2 separate regions of the Homo sapiens genome follow, and region 1 is linked to region 2. Evidence: fine-mapped expression QTL. Tissue or cell type: putamen. Region 2 holds a variant in brackets; the other region holds the start of a gene. All regions are shown on one strand. Distances are between the middles of the regions.

Region 1 (5,116 bases), 23 kb after region 2:
CTTGTATGGGGCTGAGCGTAGTGGCTCACATCTGTAATTCCCGCACTTTGTAAGGCTGAGGCAGGACTGCTTAAACCAGGAGTTCAAGACTAGCCTGGGCAACATAGCAGGACCTCATCTCTACAAAAAAAAAAATAATAAAAATTAGCCAGATGTGGTAATGCACACCTGTAGTCCCAGCTACTTGGGAGGCTGAGGCAGGATGATCACTTGAGCCCAGGGGTCAAGGGTGCAATGAGCCATGATCATACCACTGCATTTGGCCTGGGCAACAGAGCAAGACCCTCTCTCAAAAAAAAAAAAAATCTAAAAGAGAATGGGTAAATCAGGCATAGTGGTGCATGCCTGTAGTCCCAGCTACTCCACAGGCTGAGGCGGGAGGATCACTTGAGTCCAGGAGTTTGAGGTGGTAGGGTGCAATAATCGTGACTATAAATAGCCACGGCACTTTAGCCTGGGCAACATGACGAAACCCTGTCTCTATAAAAAAATAAAGAAATTAGCCTGGAGTGGTGGTGCATGCCTGTGTTCCCAGCTATTCCAGAAGCTGAAGTGGGAGGACTGCTTGAGCCCAGGAGGTGGAGATTGCTGTGGGCCCAGATCGTGCCACTGCAGGGGGCTACAGGAGTCTAAAAGGGAGGGGACACAATTTCCCCAAATCTCCAATGTTGAGGAGTTCTGCCTACACTCCTTGCCCCAGGATGCCCCCAGCACCAAGGCCAAGAGGGTGTCTTGGCCCTCAGCACTGGGGTAGAACATCTGTACACAGAACCAGGCCACAGGAGAAGGCATACACAGAGCCCATGAGCACCAGCCCCTCTGAGCTGCGTCCAGCCCCCATCTCCATCCTCTGTTCTCTGGGACTACAAATCCAGGCCTGACCTGGTTCTATCCCTACCTGCAGAGACAGAAGACAGAAGGAGACAACCCCTGAGAAGCCTTTCCCCAGGGCCTGATTCCCCCTCCCACTGTAAGATCTCTCAGCCCGCACTTTGGGAGGCCGAGGTGGGCGGATCACGAGGTCAGGAAATCGAGACCATCCTGGCTAACAGGGTGAAACCCCGTTTCTACTAAAAATACAAAAAAAAAAAAATTAGCCGGGCGTGGTGGCGGGCGCCTGTAGTCCCAGCTACTCGGGAGGCTGAGGCAGGAGAGTGGCGTGAACCTGGGAGGCGGAGCTTGCAGTGAGCCGAGATCGCGCCACTGCACTGCATCCTGGGCAACAGCCAGACTCCATCTCAAAAAAAAAAAAAAAAAAAAAAACCTCTCAGCCCTGGATCAGGTCCCCTCTCCAGGAAAGGTGACAGAGTGGAGTCTAAATGACACTGCCCTAGGGCCCCGCTGGGGTGGAAAACAGACCCAGACAGCGCCCCCAGCCCTCCCTCCCCAGGGAGGAGTGAAGGGCATAACAGACAGCGGAGGACACCGGGACAGGAAGGAGGGGCCAGCCGCTCTCAAACTAAGTCTAAACCACGGCGGTGAGGAAGTGTGGTCCCAAATCCAGCCCCCTCCCGGCCGAGCTCACAGAGCTCAGGGCTGGAACTCGGAACCCTGGCCCGACGCAGGCGGCAGCACCGAAGGGAACTTGAGCCCCGGCCCCCTCAGGGGACCCACGACCGGGGCGCAGCTTTGCTGGCAGACGCCGCAATACTGCGCAGCCGCGGCCCCGCAAGCAGAAACAGGGCTGGGTCTGAGGCCTACGTGGAGCTGGGGCCCGACGGCTCACGGAAGGCAGCGGGGGGCACTGGGCGCCCCGGATCCGAGCCTCCCGGGCGGCAGGCCCTCCCAGCTGTGCGGCGCCCGGATCCCCACAAAGGCACCCCAAGCGCGGACGGCGGGACGGGCGACAGCACCAGGGTGGTGTCCCAGGCTTCCCCACCGCCGCGGACCAACTCGGCCCCGGCCCGGGCGGGGCTTCCGGAGAGATTTATCCCCCTTCCCTCTAACCTTCCTGGGGCTCCGGCTCAGGCTGGACAACGGCTCGGAGACCCAGTCCCCCTCAAGTGTTGACCCCCCCACCATCTAGAACCAGCCAACCCACCAAACCACCTCTCCCAAGCCGGGCCTCTTCCCGGCGTCCGCCGCTGACCTGATCAGAGCCGCTCTGCCGGCCCGAGGGAGCTGAGAAGGGGCTTGGGAATGGGGTCTTGAGGAGGGGCTGGCCGGAATGTGCAGCACTAGCCCAGCTGGAGCGGGCGGCGCGGGCGCGCCTGTCCCCCAGCCCACCCAACTCCCGGCCCGCGCGGCCCCCGGCACACCATAGAGACGTGGTCCTCCGCCGGCCTAGAGCGTCTCTCCAGAGCGTGTGCAGGAGCGAGACGTCATTTTGCGTCGCCTCGGGCAGGGTAGCCAGCGGCTGCATCTGAGGCGGACGCCGCAGTGTAGGGCACACCCTGAGGGTAGCGAGAGACGTGACAGGACCGAGCAGCTGGGGGCTGCAGCCTGCTCTGTCCCCACCGATCCCAGAGAGAGGCTGTGAGTCTGGATCTGGGCGTTCGCACCCTGAGAGAGGGGGTCAAAGCTCCCCTGCGGCCCCGAGGAAGAAGAGCAAGGTTGAGGACAGCCTCGGGTCACCAGAGTAGTTTGGAGGCAGGCCTGCAGGCGCGTCCCCGCTCCTCAGCTCCAAGCTGACGTATCTACACCTGCCGGCGGGCATTAAGATGGCTGGTTATGCCACTACTCCCAGCCCCATGCAGACCCTTCAGGAGGAAGCGGTGTGTGCCATCTGCTTGGATTACTTCAAGGACCCCGTGTCCATCAGCTGTGGGCACAACTTCTGCCGAGGGTGTGTGACCCAGCTGTGGAGTAAGGAGGACGAGGAGGACCAGAACGAGGAGGAAGATGAATGGGAGGAGGAGGAGGACGAGGAAGCGGTGGGGGCCATGGATGGATGGGACGGCTCCATTCGAGAGGTGTTGTATCGGGGGAATGCTGACGAAGAGTTGTTCCAAGACCAAGATGACGATGAACTCTGGCTCGGTGACAGTGGTATAACTAATTGGGACAACGTAGACTATATGTGGGACGAGGAGGAAGAAGAAGAAGAGGAAGATCAGGACTATTACCTAGGAGGCTTGAGACCTGACCTGAGAATTGATGTCTACCGAGAAGAAGAAATACTGGAAGCATACGATGAGGACGAAGATGAAGAGCTGTATCCTGACATCCACCCGCCTCCTTCCTTGCCCCTTCCAGGGCAGTTCACCTGCCCCCAGTGCCGAAAGAGCTTTACACGTCGCAGCTTTCGTCCCAACTTGCAGCTGGCCAACATGGTCCAGATAATTCGCCAGATGTGCCCCACTCCTTATCGGGGAAACCGGAGTAATGATCAGGGCATGTGCTTTAAACACCAGGAAGCCCTGAAACTCTTCTGTGAGGTGGACAAAGAGGCCATCTGTGTGGTGTGCCGAGAATCCAGGAGCCACAAACAGCACAGCGTGCTGCCTTTGGAGGAGGTGGTGCAGGAGTACCAGGTGAGAGAAATGAGGGAATGTGGGGGGATGAAGGGAGTGGAAAGGTAACTAGGAGAGCTGAGGAATGAGTAGCATTCCTTTCCCACCTCCTCAGGTACTTAGTTGCTAAACTTCTCTTTATTTGATGAGGGAGACACGGTGGAGAGAGATGGTCATATGGGTAAAAAAGGAGACACAAAACCATGAAGATTGGGGCAGATTGGCTTCCCCAGAGGAAGCTGAACAGATAATATGACGGTCACTGGAAGCGGACCACTACTGCTAATACTGGCAGTCTACCTAAGTGTAAGGGACGTGAGTAACAGATACCCAGTACTTCATTTCTCCCTAATGTGAGTCCTTGACCAATTCCCTGGGACAGGTACAGATAGGAATAGAAAGCCACAGTACTTGGAGATAATAGACATTTGGGACCTCAGCACAAGCAGTGTCAAAATAGATGTATTGGTAGACAGAAATGCCAGATGTGAGTCCTAAACTACTGATAGCAATTGGCCACACCCCCCCTCTGAAAGTCTGGGATTGCATCTCTACCTTCAGTGGGGTCCGTTTTCCTTCTAGAGAAAGGCAAAGCATATAAGCATCTTTGATGGATCAGAATGTGCCTCATATCCTGATCACTTTTCTTTCCTGGTATTTTATCATAGTGGAAGGAGTGCGGGATTTAGGATCAGATGACCTGGCTCTGCCACTTACTGTCTAGTCTTGGGCAGGTGTCAACCTCCTTGAGCTTCACTTTTTCCCTAGGATTGTAAGGATTAAAAGAGATCATATATGTTAACCATAAAGCACTAAACAAATGTTTGCTGTTTTATTTGGCTTTCTTGTAACTTGTCTTCCCTTGTTTGGGTGCTGATATGGTTAATGCCTTGCTTTCTAGTCTTGACTTCTAAGCATTAGATAATTGTCTCAATGACAATGAGCATGAGTACCATCTTCCTTACCAAAAGTCTAGGTAGATTTGACTCCTAGCAGTGCCCAAACGAAGGAGAGGTTGTCTTCAGGCCCATAAAGGTTGACCTGGATATGCAGCAGCCGCTGCTCACGTCTTAGTAGTGCTTTACAGTTTATAAAATATATTTCCTCGTGTTCTCCTATAGCAGTGGTTTTCAAATTGTTTTTTGACCAATTAGTGTGTCTTAAAATAAATGGGTCATGCCTAGCATTATCTCAAAATGAAGTAAGAGAAAATATTAGAACACATGGAACATAGTAAGGGTAAGTACTGCTTTATGAAACTTTTAAGTTATATATATATACATGTATATACTTCATCTAAAAATATATTGCTTTCTTTGAGTTGCAGTCAAAACACAAACACAGAGCACTGTCCTACAGGCTTCATGTATTAGATATTATTATCACCCCCCTGCCCCCATTTTATAGCAAATATTGGGAAGTGCACAGTTAAGGCACAAATCTAACCATAAGTCACTGCTACCTCTGTTACATTAACCTGACTTGAAGGACAAATCCTAGTACCATGTTTTCACCCAAGGTGATAACTAAAGTATCCCATGGAAAAAACTTATGTCCTATGCTTCTGGGTTTTAGTATACTGAAGCTGAGGAAAAGAGAGAACCTTCCATTTCTCTTCTAACTTTTTTTTTTGAGACGGTATCTTGCTCTGTTGCCCAGGCAGA
Region 2 (5,191 bases):
CACATGGTGCTTCATGGAGCCAGGGCCCAGGACAGGGAGGGCTGTAACCCTGGCTTGCCTGATTGGCTGAGCACAGACAGAAGAGGGTGTGGGCAGCCCGCCAGGTGGATGCCTAAGTGAGGAAGGAATGGGTGGCCAGGTGACTGAGACCGCCAAGACCAGGACCCCACTGTCAGGCCTGTGGCTTCCCAACGCCTGTGGGAAGTGTTCCCCTTTGGACACTGAGGCCATCGGCTTCAGCTTCACACCCTTTTCCAGACAAAGACCCTCAGGTAACCTCAAAAGTCACTTCTGGCCTTCCCCAGAGGGGAAAGGAGAGGGGTGCCTGTGGGCAGGTGACCCTCAGTGCTGGTGGAGGGCACAGCAGAGAGACTGCCTGCATATGGGAGGCCCCCAGCAGACCTTGCCCAGACATCAACCCTCGTTTGAGGCAAACTGTAAAATTATCACAATTTAGGCCAGGTGCAGTGGCCTATGCCTGTAATCCCAGCACTTTGGAAAGCCATGGCAGAAGGACTGTCTGAGCCTGCAGTGAGCTATGACTACACCCCTGCACTTCAACCTGGTCAACAGAGGAAGACACTGTATCTAAAATAAATAGGCTTGGCGTGGTGGCTCACACCTGTAACCCCAACACTTTGGGAGGCCGAGGCAGGTGGATCACCTGAGGTAAGTAGTTCGAGACCAGCATGACCAATATGGTGAAACCTCATCTCTACTAAAGACACAAAAATTAGCCGGTCGTGGTGGACCGTGCCTGTAATCCCAGCTACTCAGGAGGCTGAGGCAGGAGAAATAGTTTGAACCCAGGAGGCAGAGGTTGCAGTAAGCCAAGGTCGCGCCACTGCACTCCAGCCTGGGCGACAGAGTGAGACTCCACCTCAAGAAAATAAATAAGATGGGAAAGCTATGTTCTTAACATTTTTCAAATGATAATTCATACTAAAGAATGTTACCAATAACATTATAACTTATACCAATAACTTATAAAATAACATTATAACTTATACCAATAACTTATAAAATGCACAAAGCATTTTATAAGTTTTAGACTATTAATAAAAAGACACGAAAACTGAGGTATTTGTAATCATGCTTAATATTGGAAGTTCCTATACCTGCAATGTAGCAACTAATTATACAAAAATTTAATAAATGACAAAATAAAATTTTGCAAACAGATTTGTAATAACCAGAAAGAAATCTGTATTGGCAATTAATGTAACATAATTAAAAATAATTTGTTATGGTCATCTGCTAAATGCTAATTAATGTAAAATGTTAAAAGATTATTTCAATTATGACATCCTAATTTTTAATGGCTTGAAATATTATAAATATAAAAAACAGGTTTCTAAATTTAAAAGAAGAATGACTAAATTTTTCAGAAATATTTCATATTTCTTGTCATACAATATAAGAACACCATTCCATGTTTCCTTTTAGATTAGGAACCTTCCCTTATCTCACTGAAAGGAGAATGCTGGAAGGTGCTAGTAAGATGACAGTCTGTCTAAGGACTCCAGAACTGAAGGAATTGTTTTGTGGCAATGCATGTCACTTCCCTAACTCAACTGGAAAAGGAGACAAAAACCTAGTGTTTTCAACCCTCAAGCTAGCAAGAAAACACAGCCCAGGTAAGATCATCTCTTCTCCAATGGAGCTGGAGTCTACTCAACAAGAGGCGACCATTTAGAATAGAATTGTTCAGAAGTTTGCTAACAATAAGCAGCCAACATAGACACATTCTCCATTAAATCTAAAATTCCCTTTTCCCCCACTAGGGTGCCTGAGGGGCATGTAGCAAAAGTGATCCCAACCACACCACGCAAACTAGCCAGGAAACCTTTTTGCCTTCACACATCTGAGAGTCCCTGAGAAGCCGGAGACAACACAGAGGCAGCAAAACACCAACAGGAGAGTCCCAGCATCAGTTCCTGGCCACAGAAACCCTCCTGAGCAGCAGGCAGAACAGAATCCACTACAGCAATCAGCCTGCCAGAGAAGCCTCTGCCCCTGTGGTGTGAGGATCCACTTCCCCCAGGTGACACCACAGGCAGGTGGGCTGAAGAAGTGGGAAGGTCAAATCGACTGGCCCAGCCAGGATGCCTCTTTGATGATACAGGTGGTACCGGTCTAAGCCTCCCCTCTTCCACAGGGGAAACTAGGTGGCCCAAAGGGTGCCCAGAGGCAGGGGACCTGCCACAGCAGCCACCCTCCTGGGAGGTTCCCTTTCTTCCCCTTCGTGAACTCCCTCTAACACACAGCTTGCCAGGGAAGCACCCTTTGTCTTACATGGAGGGATCCCACCACACCAAAACCCAGCCAAAGAAGCCTTTTGTCCCTTAAGGGTTACCACAACCAAAAACAAAAAGATACACAAATAGTAAGCCCCTAAATTCTGTTAAGAATGAAACAATGCTGCCACTCACACCTGGCTCAGACGCCAGCAGAAGGAGGGCACCCTCCAGAGACCGCAGGAGAAGGGGGAGGACTCCTCCTTGCCCTGGTCCACCACTGTCACTGAGGCCTGCGGTACAGAACCGGCAGCTTCTTACCCACCCCAGGCCGGGCCGGGCCCCAGAGCTCTCCTACTCCCCCTTCCTGGCCCCTAGACTTGCTGCTGCTGCCACCATTAGCGCCGACGCCAACGGAACCAGCGCTGCTGTCACCCTCCATGCACCTACCCACCCTCCAAGGCTCCTACTACTTGGCCTCCACGGGTACCCTCCTACCACTCCTGTTGAGCTGCAGTCTCCATCACCGTGGCCGCCACAACCGCAGGAGATGAATCACAGAGCTGTGCCATCTTCAGGCTACAACCTCCAGCTCACCACAGGGGACTCCTCCTTCATCAGCCTGGCTTGGAGCAGCTGGGCAGACAATGCCAGAAAAACCTACAACAGGATGCAGAAAGTGGCAGTGTTGGAGCCTCACCTTGTCATGCTGGCCACTGGGTGGCAGGGACCAGTTTCAGC[A/G]AAGGCACTCACACCTACCCTCCAAAGTCCAGCCTCTCCTCCTAGACCAAGCTGGCCTCCTGACCTGGGGTGGGGACTGGAGACACCACAGTGCCCAGGGCTCACTGGGGAGCAAGAATAGCAGAAACTCAGACCCAGCCAGTCCTCTCCACCCAAGTACCAGTTCCCATTCCTCACTCCTCCACCCACAGGACCCTGAGCCCCCGTGGTGCCCACTACTCCACGCCTGGGGCCCCCAGATGGTCTCCACACCACGCAGCAAGAGGGCAAGGGCCGGGGAACCATGGTGGGTGTGAGGGCCCTGGGGTGGTCAGAGGATTGCCGTGAAAACTCTGTACACCCTCCACGCTCCAACACGAGCAGAAGTTGTTCACCCTCTAGAGCCTTGAGTCCGGGAAGAGGAGAAGGGCCCCTTCCTCAGAGGCCACCACTGTCGTGGCCACCTCCACAACCTGCCGCTGGCAGCAGCAGTGCAGCCTCCCCCCATAGCGCCCCAACCTGCCCCCCCACCGACAAGCGTAGCCCCCGGATTGTGCCCACAACACACCCAGAGACTGCTGCAGGCAGTGTAACCCTGATAGCGCCCCCAAACCACCCCTCTGCTCCTGGCAGTGTAACACTCGATAGTGTCCACAACCCATCCCCGCCACGGGTGTTGCAGCACCAAATAACACCCCACCAAACCCGCCCCCCACCCGAACCACAAGCAGCACAGCCCCAGATAGCGCCCCCAATCTGCTCCCGTCTCGGGCAGTGAACGCCCAGGGCAGTGCACCCAACCAACCCCCCACCCCACCTTCCCCTTTCCCCCACGGACAATGCAGCATTTGACAGCTCCCCTAAAGCACCCCCGACTGCCTGCCAGTTGGCATTGTTGCTGACATTGTAGCCCACGATAGCTCACCCAACCCGCCCCCTGCATCAGCCAGTGCAGCAGCTAATAATGCTCCTAACCCCCTGCCACCCGCCACTGGCAGTGCACGACAGTGCACACAACCCACAACCTGCCTCCAACCCCCCGCCCCCTTAGGCAGTGTAGAGCCTGATAGTGCAGCGAACCTGCCCCACTGCCAGCAATTCAACGCCTGATAGCGCCACCCACCAGCCCCCCGCGGCAGGCAGTGCAGCCCCAAAAGCACGCCACACCCGCTCCCCTACCACCCCGCAAGCGGGCAGTGCAGCCGCAGAGAGCGCACCTACCCTGCCACCTTTCTACCAGTCTAACAGAGATGCAGTCTCCGTCGCCACCACCAACCACAGCCAGGAGAACCGCGGTGGCCAAGGCTCCAGCCACGAGTGTTGGACACGGTCCCCACCTTCTCCTAGACCTCTAGCCGGTCAAGAGCATCTCCAGCTGCCACCCACCCTCCTACGGCTCAGGCCGCCCTCTTACTGCTCCAGCCCCCCTCCTACCGCTCAGGCCGCCCTCTTACTGCTCCAGCCCCCGCCTACCGCTCAGGCCGCCCTCTTACTGCTCCAGCCCCCTCCTACCGCCCCGGCCGCCCTCTTAGTGCTCCAGCCCCCGCCTACCGCTCAGGCCGCCCTCTTACTGCTCCAGCCCCCGCCTACCGCCCCGGCCGCCCTCTTACTGCTCCAGCCCCCCTCCTACCGCTCAGGCCGCCCTCTTACTGCTCCAGCTCCCGCCTACCGCTCAGGCCGCCATGTTACTGCTCCAGCCCCCTCCTACGGCTCAGGCCGCCCTCCTAAAACTCCAGCCACACTGCCATCTCTGTTGCCACCACCATCCAGAGTGAGACGAGCCACGGTGTGGCAGGCTCCAGCCTCCAGCTCCCCCTTCTCCTGGTCCTCTAAGTCGGGGACAGAGTAGCTCAGTGGGAGATACTGGAGAGCCTAAACTGGCGTGAGGCCTCCTCAGCATGCACATTGGGTTATGCGCATGGTTTCTGGACTGCATGTTCTGATTGGGTGAGAGAAAACCTCTAGGCCTTCTCTGATTGGACTTTATTTTCATACTCTGATTGGTTGTCCAGTCCTGGAACATGTAGTCCAGGAACCGCATATGAATAACCTCAGTATATAATTGGTGCTGAAGAAGAGAGGCTCTTCCAGGTTTTTCTGTGTCTGCTCCCGGTGCTGCTCCGAGCCCGGATTAGAGGACCAGGACAGACTGGAGGCTGTAGTTTGCGCACCGCGGCTGGCCTCCCTGCAGTTGGTGGCGACAGAAACTGTAGTGTAGCTGGAGTGGTAGGAAG

Alleles and levels. Alleles are on the strand shown, and positions count from the first base shown. SD is a standard deviation of normalised expression in the study named.
For the expression in putamen of the gene that starts at base 2,262 in region 1, A is the high allele of the variant in region 2 and G is the other (large effect, 1.1 SD a copy in GTEx).

Evidence for each region. PIP is the estimated chance that this variant, and not a neighbour inherited with it, causes the effect.
Region 1: TRIM52-AS1 starts here. The variant in region 2 is fine-mapped to the expression of TRIM52-AS1 in putamen (GTEx, PIP above 0.99). The same link has a PIP of 0.9 or more in anterior cingulate cortex, cerebellar hemisphere, hippocampus, nucleus accumbens and prefrontal cortex.

The regions. Positions count from the first base shown.
Region 1 is chr5:181,258,358-181,263,473 of GRCh38, reverse strand. It overlaps TRIM52-AS1 (TRIM52 antisense RNA 1), which reads right to left and starts at 2,262. Exons shown (of 3, transcript NR_102762.1): 1 at 2,090-2,262. It overlaps TRIM52 (tripartite motif containing 52), which reads left to right and starts at 2,331. Exons shown (of 2, transcript NM_001346048.2): 1 at 2,331-3,473. The coding sequence starts at 2,661. RefSeq lists silencers at 1,701-1,950, 2,061-2,210 and enhancers at 2,351-2,400, 2,581-2,630.
Region 2 is chr5:181,281,048-181,286,238 of GRCh38, reverse strand. No RefSeq gene overlaps it. Among named protein-coding and RNA genes, the nearest start is that of TRIM52-AS1, 22 kb to the right of the region's middle. RefSeq lists enhancers at 1,683-2,203, 4,927-5,191. The variant A/G (reference allele first, on the strand shown) is at 2,979.